Homo sapiens: one gene and its partner. Each later gene encodes a partner of the first gene's protein in a complex. Each region holds a gene or a part of one and is shown on either strand. Other genes may lie near its edges. The genes, in order: SOST and LRP6.

Region 1 (9,136 bases):
TCAGCTGGCGGGCTGAGGGGGGCCTTGCCGGCGCCCGGGATTCCTCAGGGCCTGGAAGGTCTCAGCCCCCTGCCCTGGGTTGCAGGCATTTACAATGAAATATAAACAATCAAACCACGCGCAGAGGACAGAAATGTGGGGCGCGGGTTCAGGGCCGGGGCGCCCGCCGGTGGGGAGGGGCGCGGGCGGGCTCTAGTAGGCGTTCTCCAGCTCGGCCTGGTTGGCTTTGGCGCTCCGGGCGCGGGGCCGCGGCTTCCGGCCCTTCTGCGGCCGAGCGGCCTCGGTCCCGAAGTCCTTGAGCTCCGACTGGTTGTGGAAGCGGGTGAGGCGCTTGCACTTGCACGAGGCCACCAGGCGCACCTTGCGCGCGCGCGGCGCCTCACCACCGGGACACAGCAGCTGCACGCGCTGCGCGCGGTAGCGGTCGGGGATGCAGCGGAAGTCGGGCCCACTAGGTCGCCACCACTTGCCGCGGCCGATGGCGTTGGGCAGCAGGCGCGCCGGGCCGCACTGGCCGGAGCACACCAGCTCGGTGACCGGCTTGGCGCTGCGGCACGGCCCATCGGTCACGTAGCGGGTGAAGTGCAGCTCGCGGCAGCTGTACTCGGACACGTCTGTGGAGAGAGGCGCGCGTGAGGGTGGCCGCCCGCCTGGCCACCCCTGCCCTGGACCGGCCCGTCTCTCTCCACCCCAGCCCTGCTTTTGCCAAGCCTGTCTCCAGAGGCTTTTGCCCCTGAACATCTATTGCAGGAAGGTCCCAGATGCTCTAGAGCTGGTGGAAAGCTCTCCTGCGCACCCTGTCCCCTCGGAGCCAAATGACTGCTGGGGTTCAAACACCAGGGCTCCATCGCTCACTGCAGGTGTCATCTTGGGCAAGTTCCTTAACCTCTCTCTTCTTCCTGTCTGCAAAATGGGCCGCCCCAAGCATTGCGAGTTAATCCATTACACACGCAATGCAGAAAATACCATTTGGCACATATAGCTGAAAGCGTCGGCTGTTATGTATTATTATTATCATTTCTCTTCTGGGGTCTTCTTATGATTTAAGCCACACTTGTGCCGCAGGGTCCCTGGCCTGGGCAGGGTAAGTACTCAGCACACCTTCTGCCTGGCTCTGGCTTCTCCCAAATTCCTTTTCCAGCCACTTGGGAGGGGTGGACAGGGGATGGAGAAAGGAGTAGAGGTTAATTGAAGGTAATAAATCAGGGCAGCTGCTGTGGAGGCGAGGGACTGAAGGGGAGGTGATCAGGACAGGAATTCATTAGACTTGAAAGGAATCAAAGGCAGTGTGTCCAACCCCCTCATTATCAATGAGAATACTGAGGCCCAGCCAGAGAAAAGAACTTGCCCAAAAGGCTGGGCTGCATCTCCGGACTCCACTTCCCTGGGGTCCCAGCACCTTTTGGCTCCGGCAAGAGTGGAGGCTCTGCGTTCGAGCATCCATGGGAGGCTGGGCTGGGGGATGGAGCTGAGGGCTGCTTTTTACTGTCGTTACTTTCCTACCATAGGGGCCCTGAGCTCTGACCCAAAACCTACAGGTTCAGCTGCCACAAACATTGACCTGGCTCTCTGCTGGGCACATTTCTTGTTCTGTGTTATCTGAATGGGCGCCTCATGGTGATACTCCCTGGGCAGGCAGAGATTGGGCTCCGAGGCCTGGCCTGATCCCCTGCACACACCTTGACCATGTCTCCTATGGTGGACTTAGATGGGTGGGAGCTTTTTAAATAGCTGGTCGTCGTGTGAGTACCAGTCCACCCCCAAAGGTTTCATGGGGATAGTTCCAATGTGACAAGAAAGAATGAAAAATAGTCTTAAGACCAAACCAGAGAGGGGACAGAGAAGGCCACCCCCCACCCCCACTCTGAAGAGCAAGCACAGCAGGGGAGATGTGGCCACTGCCATCGTCTGGGGCTGCTTTCTGGTCTGTGGGCTGGTTTGCATCCTCACCTCTGCAGGGCTGGAATGTGTGTGTGGTCAGGGGGGCATTTGCCCAGGGAAGGGGGCATTTTGCGGCTTTTCGAGAATAGCGCCCCTAGGCCAGGCACTTCCTCTGCAGATCATGACTTTGTTTTGAGCATGTGGCTTCCTCAGGGGCTGTGGCCTCTCGTGGGAGTCCAGCAAGGTGGACATTTTGTGTTTGGGTTCCTTACAGCCCTTCAGGCAGTCGCTGGAGCCCAGCTGACCTTGCCTAGAAGGGGAGCTGTGGGGGGAGGCGCCCTTGTCCTCCATTTTGAAGACGGAGGGTCCTGGCTGGCCTCCCATGCAGTTGCCCTTTTTAGCACCCCATAGTCCCAACAGGTTGTGAGGCGGGGAGGGCTGGGGTCCAGGAGCCTGGGCAGTGGACTTCTCTGCCACCTGGATAATGGCCAGAGGACAGGGAAGCTCTTAGTCTGAAGTGTCATTTCAGACGCCCCCATGGCCTCAGGATTCCTGCCAATTATAGAGCCAGATGCACACTGTCACCTGGGCTTCTCTGTGCAGGCCTGACCAGGAACCCAGGGTTCCTCTTCCTTCTCCCTCCCCTGGAATGAGGCAAGGTTGGGACTGGGGTGGCTGCTGAGGACAGATGTCCCTACTCCTGCACAGAGGATGCTGCTCTCCCCTCCAGGGCCTGGACTCAGCTGCACCCATGTCAGGGGCTAAAACTGTGCCGAAAACTCCCATTCCTTCAAGTGCCAGCTCCCTGGGCAGGCCGTGGGCAATGCACACTGCAGGGGTGCCTCTCTGGCCTTCCTCCCCACTGCTTTGTGGAGATCTGTCCCCCACACCCCCCCACACACCAGGGCTATCTTGCAGTTGGATCAAACCAGGTTCACACCTCAGCTCTTCTCACTACCAAGTTACTGAGTGCCTGGAACCTGTTTCTTCCCCTTCGAGCTGGGGGTTCACCTCCTGGGGATTCCATGATGTGGGTCTGTGTGGTGGGGACAGCCACCACCAGCATAGAGTGTCCGGTGCCCCACAGGTGCTGTTCTGTGGATGGGAGGCTCCCTTACCTTGTTCCCTTCCCAGTGGTACCAGCAGCTGGACGTGGCTCCTATATTCCCAGGAGGAGATTCTTTGAAACCTTTTCTTTTCTGAGCCCCTGAGCCTGTTCTGATGCCCTGATGCCATACCCTCACCACCCCAGCGTCCTCCCTGCCCTGGGCTCTCACCAGCGTCTGTTGCCTCATGCCTCTGCACCTGAATTTGAAGGCTGCACCAGCGAGCCATTCTTCCCCCACCTCCAGGCAAGACTGTTCCTCGACCAGTGCTGGCAGAGGCCAGCAATCTTCACTGGGTCTACCCCAGTCTTCCAAGCCTCCCAAAGAGAAGTTTCTAAAACCTCCCCAGGATCTTTTACTAAGAATTCTCTCCTCCACCCCATACCTTTGGTCTCAAAGGGGTGGTGGGGAGGCCGCCCTCCGTTCTCCGCCCGGTTCATGGTCTTGTTGTTCTCCAGCTCCGGTGGAGGCTCGGGGTACTCTCCGAGCTCGGGGATGATTTCCGTGGCATCATTCTTGAACGCCTGCCACCCCTGGCCCTCCACTACACGGAAGGCTGTGTGTACCAGCAGGCAGACGAGACACAGGGCCAGTGGGAGCTGCATGGTACCAGCCAGAGGAGGGCACGCCACCTTCCAGTAGCACAGGCTCTGGTCTCCAGCCGAGACACGGTCGCCTTTTTAAAGCCCCTCTCTGCTTCATGCCAGCCAATGAGGACAGGCTGGGGCAGGGCTGGTCCCATGTTTCCCTCAGCCCCGGAGGGAGGGAAAGGGGTGTGCTCAGAGCAAACCCTCCCCAAAGACTTCTCCTCTAGCTCAGCAAACTTCCAAATTGCTGCTGGCACTCCCAGGTGACCCAGAGAGAGGGGGCGTGTGAGGCAAGGCCCAAGCCTGCTCTCCGGCACCTCCCACGTGCTGGCGGCTGTGGTTTTCAGATATCAAAATGAGCTCCGGCTTTTAATTGTCTGTCTCCCTGGGCCCTCGGGCATTCTCAAAACAAACTGTGGACCCGCTCAACAAAGAAAATGTGCAGTTCTGAGTGCTTCGCGGGGCTGAGCCCGGCCTATTCCATTTCTCAGGCCAAGTTCATTTGTCACCCCACCAACAAATGGCCCAAGGCGTTTCTGTTTGACCCCCATAGACCCAGCCAGAGGCAAAAAGATGCTTTTAAAGAAATCCCATTGGTCCCAACTCCACAAGTCTCAGCATTCATTGTCCTAACCAAGAAAGCCTCTCTTGGTATTCTCTGGAAGGCAAGAGAGAGAACTAGAGGGTCAGAGCAAGGGTGCCCGCTTGGGAGAGAGGGCAGGATTCTGGTTACAAATCGAGGATGCGCTGGTCACTCAGGCTCCTGTGGTGGACAGCACAGAGGAAATCCCAGCTCATGCTCCTCAGGGATCCTGTGCACTGTGACAGGCACTTCTGAGCCAGGGCACTCACTGTGGCTCGCAGGGTGATGTGCTGAAGACAGTCATTTCCCCAACCAGTCTGTGTGTGTGAGAAGACAACACCAAATTCCTTTCCTTAGCAAAAGCCACAGCCAGCGTTTTTAGTGCTGACATTTTATTTTCTTGTCTTCCAGCTGGTTACATTTTTCAAAAACAGTTTTGAGTCCTGTATGGAAAGCTTCATTGGTGCACACCACAGGATGTGTTCCATGAAGCCATCCCAGGACCAAGTGGTCACAAAGAAGCTAAGAGAAAATGCTGCCTTGGCCCTGCATATAATGAGCCACACAGGGCCGGGGCGGGGGGCGGGGGGGCAGGTAGAGGCGTGGGGGAGAAGGATTCACACCTGAGGTGCAAGAAGAGAAAGGAAGGCCAGAGGAATCTTTCATTGAAGACAGATTGTTTGAGGACAAGCAGCTCCTGTGAAGAGGCTGCCCAGATCCTCTGGTATTTTAACTGGGCAATGAATCAGCATGCCCCACCTGCAGAGCCTCTGCAAGTCCTTTGCCACCTGCCTCAACTTGCAAGTCGCTGTGTCCATCTGCAGCCGACTGTCCTCCTTTCCATCATCCATCATCCGACACATGAATGCAGCTGCTCTGACAGTTTTACAAGCCAGACAGAAGCCCCCTCAGGAAGGGCCCTCTCTGATACCTGCTTCCTAAGTCAGTTTCCTTCAGGGCAGATGAAAACAGCTGTGGCCATTGTTGGGGGTGATCTATCTCTCCCAGCAGAGCCGGTAGTGTTGTGAGAAGCTGGCCCTCCGCGCCACCTCCCCTTGTCTATGACCCTCCAGCCTCCTTTTCCCTTGCTCTGGAATGTGGACTGTTAACCCTCTCATGACCAGACGACTGCCTTCTTGCAATGGACTTGGGAGAGAGCAGTTCTGATGCCTGGGTTCCTTGAGCAGGTAGGATGGATGCTTATAGCCCCACCTGCTGTTGGGAGCGGCTGGACCGTCTGCATTAAACAGAGGCAGTGGGATTCATCCCTGGAACGCGTCTGCCACCTGCTGGAGACAAAAGGAGGGGTGACTGCAGGATGGCAAGTCTCAGGACTGGACGTGATTTCCTTTCCTTTCCTTTCCTTATTTGGAAGTGAAGTAATATTAAAAGGAAAAAGAAGAATCCAGTGGACTTGAACCTCTAAATGATCCACACCCCTCTGAATGGCTCAGCGAGAACCTGCTGTGACATCTTCTGCTGTTTCATTTAATGTTAAGTCATTGACAGCTGTTTATTTTTACTCAGTCCACAAACTTGTCATTGTTCACAGTACTCCCTGGAATTAAACCCCCAGGGTTTTAGCTGATTCCTATTGTGAGTAGTTTAGGTTATTTCCAATTTTTTTTCCTATTTCCAGCAGGGTTGCTATGAACATCCTTGTACGGCTGAAATTTTTTTTTTTTTCTTTTTTTGGCAGATTCTCTCTGTGGCCCAGGCTGCAGTGCAGTGGCACAATCTTGGCTCACTGCAACCTCCACCTCCTGGGTTCAAGCAATTCTCCTGCCTCAGCCTCCCGAGTAGCTGGGATTACAGGAATGCACCACCACGCCCGGCCAATTTTGTATTTTTAGTAGAGACGGGGGTTTCTCCATGTTACTCAGGCTGGTCTCGAACTTCTGACCTCGGGTGATCTGCCCAACTCGGCCTCCCAAGGTGCTGGGGATTAGAGGCATGAGCCACAATGCCCGGCCTCAGAGTAATTTTTTAAATTAAAATTTTAAAATGTGGATATAATTATAAATTTAAATATACTTATAAGAAATAAAAGCCTGGGCAACATGGTGAGGCCTAGTCTCTACAAAAAATTTAAAAATTAGCTGGGCATGGGGTCGCACGCCTGTGGTCTTAGCTACTTGGGAGGCTGAGGTGGGAGGTTCACTTGAGGTTGAGGTCGAGGCTGCAGTGAGCCATACTTGGGCCACTGCACTCCAGCCTGGATGACAGAGTGAGACCCCGTCTCAAAAAATAAAAATAAAAAAAAGAAAATGCAGACTCCGTGTATCCTTTATCCAGTTTCCCACAACAATAACACCTTGCGAAACTATAGGACAATATCACAACTAGGATATTGATATTGACACAATTTACCAATCTTACCCACATCTCCCGTGGTTTAACCTCTACTGTGTGCGTGCACACGCATTCACGTGTGTGTATACTTAGTTCTATGCAATCTTGTCACGGGTAAATTTGGGGATCCACCACAGTCAAGATAAAGCACAGCTCTGTGACCACAAGTCTTTCTCCTGTTGCCCACCTCCTTCCCTCCTTTTCCCTCCCTCCCACAACTAACCCCTGGCAACTACTCATCTAATCTCCATTTCTGTCATTTTTTTTTTTCACTTCAAAATTGTTACATAAATGCGGCCAGGTGCGGTGGCTCACTCATGTAATCCCAGCACTTTGGGAAGCCAAGGCAGGCAGATCACTTGAGGTCAGGAGTTCGAGACCAGCCTGGCCAACATGGCGAAACCCTGTCTCTACTAAAAATACAAAAATTAGCTGGGCATGGTGGCACGCACCTGTAATCCCAGCTACTTGGGAAGCTAAGGCAAGAGAATCGCTTGAACTCAGGAGGCGGAAGTTGCAGTGAGCTGAGATCGCGCCACTGTGCTCCAGCCTGGGTGACAGAGTGAGACTGTCTCAAAAAAAAAAAAAAAGGTTATATAAATGGAATCAATTAGTATGTAGCCTTTGGGGATTTTTTTTTCACTCAGCATTATTTCCATTATCCAAGTTGTACATATCAGTAACATGTTCCTTTTTCTTTTCTTTTTTTTTTTTTTGGCTGAGTAGTATTCCACAAAGTTTAAAAAAACAAAACAAAACTTTAGAGTTATTTCTGGAAGTGAATGCTGTGTCTGAGGGAGTGTGAAGAGTTTGGTGGTCTGATGAGGGTATTGCAGGGCTGTTTTCCAGAAAAAGCCCAGTCCCCGCCCTCACCTGCAAAATAGAGGCTCCCATAGGTGGTACTTTGATGAGGCTGCCGTAACTAAGTACCACAAATTGGGTGGCATAAACAACAGAAGTCGTCTCACAGAGCTGGAGGTTAGGAGTGCAAGTTCAAGACATTGGCAGAGTTGGTTCCTTCGAGGACAGCGAGGAAGGCCTTTTACCTGCCTTCTGCTGGCTGCTGACAAGCTGTGGCATTCACTGGCTTGCAGAAGTGTCACCCCCAATCCCTGCCTTCATCTTCACATGGTGTTCTCTCTGTGTTCGAATTTTCCCTTTTTTCTAAGGAGGTCAGGCATATTAGATTAGGCCCAGCCTAATGACCTCATCTTAACGAGTTACATCTGTAATAGCCCTATTTCCAAATAAGGTCACATTCTCAGGTACTGTGACTTAGGACTTCAATATATGCATTTGGGAGGAATGCAGTTCAACCCATAAATAAGACTGTCAACACTGGGTTTGGGATGTTGATTTTTTTTTTTTTTTTTTTTTTTTTTTTTGAGACAGAGTCTCGCTCTGTCACCCAGGCGGGAGTGCAGTGGTGTGATCTTGGCTCATATAACCTCCACCTCCTGGGTTCAAGCAGTTCTCCTGCCTCAGCCTCCCGAGTAGCTAGGACTACAGACTCCCGCCACCACACCCAGCTAATTTTTGCATTTTTTTTATTTGTTTTGTAGAGATGGGGTTTCGCCATGTCGGCCAGGCTGGTCTTGAACTCCTGACATCAGGTGTTCCCACAATCCCATAAAGTGCTGGGATTGCAGGCGGGAGCCACCGCACCCAGCCGATTTTTTTAAACATTGAATTTAACAGTTGAAACTTAATTTCCAGAAAAGCTGCTTTTCCATGTGATTATTTACCAGCTTTTGTTTCTGTCGAGTTGCTTCTTCCGATGTTCACTCGCCAAACGTTTAATAAAGCAAGGGGGACACGCACTCCCTCTCCAGGAGCTCGCATACCATGGAAGAAATAATTTCCGCATCCAAACAACTCCACTACCAGATGGAAGGTGATCAATGCCACTGAAAAAAAGGTTCAGATGCTTTTTTCTAAAAAAAACTTTATTTTTTTTCTGGAGCACTTTTAGGTTCACAGCAAAACTGAGTGGATGGTACAGAGATTTCTCATTTATGTCCTGTGCCCACACATGTACAGCTGCCCCCGTTATCAACATCCCGCCACCAGAGTGGTGCATTTGCTATGATTGATGAGCCTACATGACACATCATTATCACCTGAAGTCCATGGTTTACATCACAGCACTAGTGTTGTACATCCTATGGCTTTGGACAAATGTATAATGACATACATCTACCATTATAGTATCATACAGATGGGCAGTATTTTCATTGTCCAAAAAAACTATCTGCTCTGCCTATTCATCCCTCCCCGACTTTCCCCAACCCCTGGCAACCACTGATCTTTTTACTGTACCTTTATTTTTGCCTTTTCCAGGATGTCATATAGAGTTGGAATATACCCATACATAGTCTTTTCAGATTGGCTTCTTTCAGTTAGTAATATTCATTTGGGGTTCCTCCATGTCTTTTCATGGCATGAACAGCTTATTTTTTTTTTTTAGCACTGAGTAATACTCCATCGTCTTGATGTATCACGGTTTATCTAGTCACCTACTGTCATCTACTGAAGGACATCTTGGTTGCTTTCAAGCTCTGGCAATTATTAATAGAGGTGGTATAAACATTTTGTACAGGTTTTTTGTTTTGTTTTGTCTTAAGACG
Region 2 (8,349 bases), on another chromosome or scaffold:
AATTTAGATAGGTTGCACTTATTTATGTAACAAGACCTGGAAGAGGTAATAGTTTAAATTGTCTCGTTTCCACTAGCAAAGTTTTCAGAAGTGGAGCTCTCGTTTTAAATGTGGCGAAATATGGTGTAAGGTGGTCTTCTAATATGTAACAGTACTGTACTTAGCTGTGAGTACATATTATTTGAAGTAAAACTGTCTTTTGATGTAAAATATTTTTGTTCATAATTTAGAATTAATTCATTCTTTGAGAATGTCATCCTCTGTTATAGTAAAGATATTTAGTCAACCTTGGACTCCAAGGAGAAAAATCTGATTGATTTGTTGCATTTAGGTCATTTTTTTCCCCCACAAAGAATTGGGGCTTTAACATTGGCTGGGTGTGATGGGGTATGTGAGAGTCTGGGAGACCTTCTGTCCTGTAGCCCTGTTGAATTAGTAGCAGAAAGCCAGGGAATACTGTTAGTGCTGTGTCCCTATCTCTATCATCACATGACAAGGTATAAAGGAAAGATTTGGGAATTTCAATACTAAAATCTTGGATTTAAAGCCCAAGTGTCACAACTTCATAACTTTGTGGTTCTGGTCTAGTCCGCTTCTCTAGGTCTCAGTTTCTTTACTGGTAGTGTGGATAATGATACCTGACTAGTTTGCAGGGTTATTGGGTGTTTTAAATGAAATAATATGGAGTACCTTGTTAATGTTACTTTTTGCTATAATTTTTGCTTGTTCAGGGACATATCCTCAAATGCTTTCATGATTTGAGATTTAATTTGTATAACGTTCACAATTTTTTTTTTTTTAAAGAGACAAAGTCTTGCTTCATCACTCAGTCTGGGGTGCAGTGGTGTAATCACAGCTCATTGCAGTCTCAAAGTCTTGGGCTTAAGTGATCCTCCTGCTTCATCCTCCCAAAGCTCTGAACTATAGGCACGTGCCACTATGCCCCCAATTTTTTGTAGATATGGGGTTGGTGTGGGGGTGTCTTGATATGTTGCCCAGGCTGGTCTCCAACTCCTGGCCTCAAGTGATCCTCTCAAAGTGCTGGGATTACAGGTTACAGGTGTGAGCCACCATGCTTGGCCAGGTTCACGAATTCCTATTTTTTTTTTGGAGGTAGGGTCTTGCTCTGTTGCCTAGGCTGGAGTGCAGTGGCATGATCGCTGCTCACTGCAGCCTGGACCTCCTGTGTTCATGTGATCTTCCCACCTCAGCCTCCCAAGTAGCTGGGACCACAGTTGTGTGCCATAACACTTGGCTAATTTTTATAGAGCCAGAGTTTTGCTATGTTGCCCAGGATGGTCTTAAACTCCTGGGCTCAAGTGATCCTCCCACCTCCGCCTCTCGGAGTTCTGGGATTACAGGTGCAGATTCACACATTCTTTTTTTTTTTTTTGAGACGGATTCTTGCTCTGTTGCCCAGGCTGGAGTGCATTGGTGTGATCTCCGCTCACTGCAAGCTCTGCCTGCCGGGTTCACGCCTTTCTCCTGCCTCAGCCTCCTGAGTAGCTGGGACTCATTTTTTTGTATTTTTTAGTAGAGACGGGGTTTCACTGTGTTAGCCAGGATGGTCTCCATCTCCTGACCTCGTGATCCGCCCACCTCGGCCTCCCAAAGTCCTGGAATTACAGGCGTGAGCCACCACGCCCGGCCAGATTCACACATTCTTTTTTTTTTTTTAAAGACAGAGTTTCGCTCTTGTTGCTCAGGCTAGAGTGCAATGGCATGATCTCGGCTCACTGCAACCTCCGCCTCCCGGGTTCAAGCGATACTCCTACCTCAACCTCCTGAGTAGCTGGAATTACAGGCATGCACCACCATGCCCAGCTAATTTTTTTTTTTTTTTTGTATTTTTAGTAGAGATGGGGTTTCTCCTTGTTGGTCAGGCTGGTCTCGAACTCCCGACCTCAGGTGATCTGCCCATCTCGGCCTCCCAAAGTGCTGGGATTACAGGTGTGAGCCACCACGCCTGGCCCAGATTCACACATTCTTAAAAGTGAAAGGGATCTTGGTCGTTTGAGCCTCACCAGTTTATTTGTAAGTGGGGAAACTCAGATTCAGAGATACTGTAATTTAATAAAGGTAGGTTAATTAAAGATGGGGCAGGGATTTATTATTCATTCTTTTAGCAAATATGTATGGAATACCTCCTATATGTCAGCCTCTGGTACTGATGGTGAGTAAAACAATGTGTTTCCTAATCTAACGGGCCTCACAGTTTAGGTTGCCATCCTTACCATTTTCTTAGTTCCATTCGGATACTGATGAGAAAAAATAATATCTGATCTTCTGCTGGAAGTATTTTTGATAAGAATATAGGTTTTGGAATACCATCGGTGTGTGTAATCTGTGAAATACTATTTCTTAGCTTGCTTTTTTTTTTTTTTTTGAGACGGAGTCTCGCTCTGTCGCTCAGGCTGAAGTGCAGTGCCGCGATCTTGGCTCACTGCAATCTCTGCCTCCTTGGTTCAAGCGATTCTCCTGTCTCAGCCTCCTGAGTAGCTGAGACTACAGGTGCCTGCCACCATGCCTGACTTATTTTTGTATTTTTGTATTTTTTTGGTTTTTGAGACGGTATCTCACCCTGTCGCCCAGGCTGGAGTGCAGTGGCATGATCTCAGCTCACTGCAACCTCTCCCTCCTGGGTTCAAGCAATTCTCCTGTTTCAGCCTCCTGAGTAGCTGGGACCACAGGCTCACACCACCATGCCCGGATAATTTTTATATTTTTAGTAGAGACGGGCTTTCACCATATTGGTCAGGATGATCTTGAACTCCTGACCTCAAGTTATCCACCTGCCTTGACCTCCCAAAGTGCTGGGATTACAGGTGTGAGCCACTGTGCCCGGCCTAATTTTTGTATTTTTAGTAGAGATGGGGTTTCACCATATTGGTCAGGCTGGTCTCGAACTCCTGACCTCAGGTGATCCACCCACCTCTGCCTCCCAAAGTGTTGGGATTACAGGCGTGAGCCACCGCGCCTGGCCTTTTTAGCTTTTTTTGAGGAGGCTTGTTATATAAAAATTCTTCGTTACTTTTTTTTGTTTTGGTGGGCTGGTAAATATTGTTGGAACAAACCACTAATGTTTTGCATCTTGTATTTCTGTAGAAGCGATCCTTTCTTCCTTTAAAATCAGGTGTTATAAAGTCTTGGGGAAGTAGAACAAATTTTGGAGTGGCAATCAGGAGAATTAAGTTATGGTTCTAAATTTGCTGTGTAACCTTGAGTGATCTCTGTACACTTTATTTGGAGATTAGAATTCATGTTAACACATTAAGGGTTCTGAAAAGTCCTGAGGTAAAGAGACCGGTTTTAACTTTGTTTAACCTATTATTTTCCAAACTTGTCAAGTATTACATTGATATTTGATGACAGTTTCATATAGTTAATTTGATACTGTCATTCCTGTTTACTTACCTGGCTTCAGGTTTGCTCATTTGGCTAAACAATAATTTGTCTGGTTATTAAATTTTAAGGTTTTAGCTTGTTATTATCAGAAGGGCTAATAGTGATTTCCTGTGGTTCAATTTTTTTTTTTTTTTTTGAGACGGAGTCTTGCTCTGTCGCCCAGGCTGGAGTGCAGCGGCGTGATCTCAGCTCACTACAAGCTCCGCCTCCCGGGTTCACGCCATTCTCCTGCCTCAGCCTATAGGCGCCCGCCACCACGCCCGATTAATTTTTTGTATTTTTAGTAGAGATGGGGTTTCACCGTGTTAGCCAGGATGGTCTCGATCTCCTGATCTCGTGATCCGCCCGCCTCGGCCTCCCAAACTGTTGGGATTACAGGCGTGAGCCACCGCGCCCGGCCATGATTCAATTTTTAAGAGATTTTTTTCTTTGCTTTAATTGGAAGTTTTTCCATTTGCTGTACTGAACTACTGTGTCCTTATATATGCTTTGGCTGTCAGAAAGGACTGTTTTAAATATCAAAGGAGATTCTGGGAAGGGATATATTAATGGAAAATATTTTATGAGAACGTATATTTTTTGTTTAAATATTTTGCGCATACTGGAAAAATAATGTTTAGTGCTATTTAGGCCATGGGTAACTACTCTGAGAAAGATTATTTTCATCGTAGAAATTCTATTGAAAGTTTACATTTAGAGAAGATTATATGGAAGGTACTATAGCAGAAAGACATGGCTTGTTGTTAAACAGGCCAAGTTAAACTCTTCTGCCGCTTTGTGTTCCTTTGGACAAGTTATTTCCTTTCCTGTTAGGTGGGGATATAACTTGCAAGACTTCTGTGAGAACTGACGAAATGTTTGTAAAGGGGTAGTAGAACGCACAGTCAATAGTAGACATTGAATAAATGGTTGCTATTATTAAGATGGCCGAATTAAAAGAAACATTATACTCTGGAAAGACTGGTAAAACATTTTAAGTGTCGCTATGTCCTGGGCACTGTTTTTGGCAGTTGATAGTTTTAGGCCAGTGGTTTTGGAATTTTTTTTGATTCTTCTGCAACTGGAATAAAAGCTCCATAAAATACTTTTACTTATGGAAATTTCTGTTTTGTTTGATATAAAACGGAATGACACTAAATTTTTTTTCTTTTTTTTTTTTTTGAGACGGAGTCTTGCTCAGTCGCCCAGGCTGGAGTGCAGTGGCGTAATCTCGGCTCACTGCAAGCTCCGCCCCCCGGGTTCACGCCATTCTCCTGCCTCAGCCTCCCGAGTAGCTGGGACTGCAGGCCCCGCCAACACGCCCGGCTAATTTTTTTTGTATTTTAGTGGAGACGGGGTTTCACCATGTTAGCCAGGTTGGTCTCCATCTCCTGACCTGGTGATCCAGCCGCCTCGGCCTCCCAAAGTGCTGGGATTACAGGCGTGAACCACCGCGCCTGGCCTAAATTTATTTCTAAAGGATTGCAGCCATAACTATTTTAGGTGATGATTATTATAAATAAGCTACAGAACAGACAGTTCAAATGATTGTGATACTTATTAAAGAGTTAAGCATGGGCAAAATAATTTTATCAAGACATCTAATTGAGAAATTGCATTATTTGTTTACAACAATTATTCAGTTGGTGGATTTCTTTCTGCAGGATGGCTGAATGCTATACTGAGTTTCTGCATTGCATGTTTTCACTTCGGATAAGGGTGTTTATCTTCTATAAAGTAAGCCTCACTTCAGTGAATAAAACACTGTTTTATATGAGTAACTTTGAAATTTAGTCAAATATACAGACTAGGCAATCTAAGAACAGGCTGTTTGCTCTTAAAATTATTTATTTTAAAATACAATTTGTCAGTACATAAATGCAAGGAAACAAGGTTATTTGGTATTATTAACATATGCTTTTGTTTCTCAAGCTGTTCGTGTTTGCGGCAGTGAGTATTCTCACTAAAGGTTCAAGCTGTTCGGGTGTGAGGCTAGAAACTTTTAAAATGTGCTTGGACTCTTCGGTGAAAATTATTGATACTTTGATGCTGTGATCCTTTTAGCGGTATCATAACTTGTAGTTTCTGTAATATCTTGCTTGGAAGGACCTTGTATAAGTGCTTAAATATTTTGGAACTAATTTCAGGAGGAGATTGGGGATGCAAAATGAAATTATATTTTTAGGCAGAAAACTACATTAAGTTATGTAAGTTATTAACACCAGGCCTAAAGTTATTGATGAGACTCTCAATAAAAATAACATGACCAGCAGTAGTCTTTTTTTTTTTTTTTTTTTGAGATGGAGTCTCGCTCTGTCACCCAGGCTGGAGTGCCGTGCCATGATCTTGGCTCACTGTGACATCTGCCTCCTGGGTTCAAGTGATTCTCCTGTCTCAGCCTCCCAAGTAGCTGGGATTAGTAGGCGCCCACTATCATGCCTACCTAATTTTTGTGTTTTTAGTAGAGATGGGGTTTCACCATGTTGGCCAGGCTGGTCTCGAACTCCTGACCTCAGGTGGTCCACCCGCTTTGGCCTTCCAAAGTGCTGGGCTTACAGGCGTGAGCCTGCTGCACACAGCTGTCATTTTTTTTTTCCCAAGAAAATAGTCACCCAAATATTGGAAACCTACCTTTATCAAATTATGTATGTTTAACCAGGAGGCTATTTTCTCTAATGGTCTTAGTCATTGTTTTATCACTACAAGACCCAAACTACAAGTAAAGGACTGCAAGGGATAGGAGTCTTCCTCACTAATGATTAGCTTTATTGGTACGTATAATTTAAGTACTGTATATCCATATATCCAGTTTAAAGATACTATGTTTTGCAAGTCTGAGAAAGGTGACGAGTGAACTTCATTACCATGAATTCTTAGCTACACATTATATTGTCTTTATTTGTAACCTTCTAGATTTATGCTAATGCAGAAATAGCTCTTTGATGAAAAGTTTTTGAAGAGTAGACCTTTTTCCCCTTTATATGCACCATGTACCAGAGGTTTGCACATATTGAGCACTGTAAATTTTACATTTAAAGTAATATAAAAAGATGTGAATTTTTATGACATTTATTTGGAATGCCATTTTGTGTTTTGACTCAATCGTTCATTAGCTATAGTTAAATTATAAATTTGTAACGATTACAAAGATTTCTTAGTCTGGGTCATGGTGGCTCACACCTGTAATCCCATCTCTTTAGGAGGCCAAGGCGAGAGGATCACTTGAGGTCAGGAGTTCAAGACCAGCCTGGGAAACATCTATAAAAAATTAAAAAATTATCTGGTCACGATGGCACATGCCTGTAGTTTCAGCTGCTTAGAAGGCTGAGGCAGGAGGATCACTTGAGCCCAGGAACTCAAGGCTACAGTGAGCCATGATCATGCCACTGCACTCCATATCACAGACAAAACCCTGTCTTTCAAAATAAATAAATAAAGATTTCTTAGCATAGATTAGATATGTTAAATAGACTACTAAAAAATCAGCATATTCATATCTGAGATTGAATTCAAGGTGTGGACTATGTAACGTGTTTTCTGGTTTTAGGATATAACTATTGCACTGATATAATTAGTTTTTTTTTTTTTTTTGAGACAGGGTCTCACTGTGTTTCCTAGGCTGGAGTGTGGTGTGATGCTATCATGGCTCACTGCAGCCTGGACCTCCTGGTCTCAGGCGATCCTCCTGCCTCAGCTTCCAGAGTAGCTGGGACTATAGGCACGTGCTACCACGCCCGGCTCATTTTTAATTTTTTTTTTTTTTTTTTTTTTTTTTTTTTTGTAGAGACAGGGTCTTACTATGTTGCTCAGACTGGTCTCGAATTCCTGGGCTCAAGTGATCCTCCTGCCTTGGTTTCCCAAAGTGCTTGCGATTACAGGCATGAGCCACCATGCCTGGCCTCAAGTACTTTTTTCTTTCTTTCTTTTTTTTTTTTCATTAAGCCCTTTCTATCAAGTACTTTTTTTTTTTTTTTTCCTTGAGAGGGAGTCTTGCTCTGTCGCCCAGGCTGGAGTGCAGTGGCGTGATCTCGGCTCACTGCAAGCTCCGCCTCCCAGATTCATGCCATTCTCCCGCCTCAGCTTCCCAAGTAGCTGGGACTACAGGCGCCCACCACCACGCCCAGCTAATTTTTTTTGTATTTTTTTAGTAGAGACGGGGTTTTACCGTGTTAGCCAGGATGGTCTGATCTCCTGACCTCGTGATCCACCCGCCTCGGCCTCCCAAAGTGCTGGGATTACAGGCGTGAGCCACCGCACCCGGCCTGTCAAGTACTTTTTTAAACCAAGTTTTTTGGAGCTATAATTCACATACAGTAAAAATCTCCATTTTACAATGTCTAGTTCGGTGGCTTTTAGTATACTCACAGGGTTGTAAAACATCACCACTATCTCATTCCAGAACGCTTATCATCCCCTGCTCCCTCAAAACCCATACATTTCCCATTTCTCCCTTCCCTCAGCCTCTGGTAACCATGAATTTACTTTCTGTCTCTATGGATTTGCTTACTCTGAATATTTCATATAAATGGAATAAAATATGTGGCCTTTTGTGTCTAGCTTCTATCACTTAGCATTTTCAGGGTTCATTCATGTTGCATGTGTCAGTACTTCATTCCTTTTAATGGCTGAGTAATCCATTGTATGGATATATTAAATACTTTCAAATGAGTGTGGGTTTGATTATTGGAGTCTTTACCTTGAGAAATTATTTCTGAATCTCAGCTTTTGATACGTTAAAAAAATCTGTTTTTTTTGAAACAGAGTCTTGCTTCATCACCCAAGGAGGAGTGCAGTGGCACAATCTCTGCTCACTGCAACCTCTGCCTCCTGGGTTCAAGTGATTCTCATGCCTCAGCCTCCTGAGTAGCTGGGACTACAGGCGTGTGCCACCATGCTGGCTAATTTTTGTATTTTTAGTAGAGAGGGGGTTTGGCTATGTTGGTCAGGCTGGTCTTGACCTCCTGA

Evidence for each region.
Region 2: the proteins of SOST (region 1) and LRP6 are in contact, whole or in part, in a crystal structure (PDB 6L6R), measured with the Homo sapiens proteins. Residues at the interface, in NP_079513.1 of Homo sapiens: Leu115, Pro116, Asn117, Ala118, Ile119, Gly120, Arg121, Arg169, Thr171, Arg172, His174, Asn175, Gln176, Ser177; in NP_001401174.1 of Homo sapiens: Arg28, Asp52, Val70, Ser71, Glu73, Leu95, Ser96, Asp98, Glu115, Arg141, Trp157, Trp183, Asn185, Ala201, His226, Phe228, Trp242, Met269, Arg336, His361, Asp379, His404, Asp406, Thr422, Glu447, Arg449, Trp465, Trp491, Asn493, His534.

Annotation. Positions count from the first base shown.
Region 1 is NC_000017.11:43,755,150-43,764,285, forward strand, and holds the start of SOST (sclerostin precursor), read right to left. Parts: upstream 3,643-9,136; 5' UTR 3,593-3,642; coding exon 3,373-3,592; intron 615-3,372; coding exon 193-614; 3' UTR 1-192. UniProt on the Homo sapiens protein: Negative regulator of bone growth that acts through inhibition of Wnt signaling and bone formation.
Region 2 is NC_000012.12:12,256,595-12,264,943, reverse strand, and holds part of LRP6 (low-density lipoprotein receptor-related protein 6 isoform b precursor), read left to right. Parts: intron 1-8,349. UniProt on the Homo sapiens protein: Component of the Wnt-Fzd-LRP5-LRP6 complex that triggers beta-catenin signaling through inducing aggregation of receptor-ligand complexes into ribosome-sized signalosomes.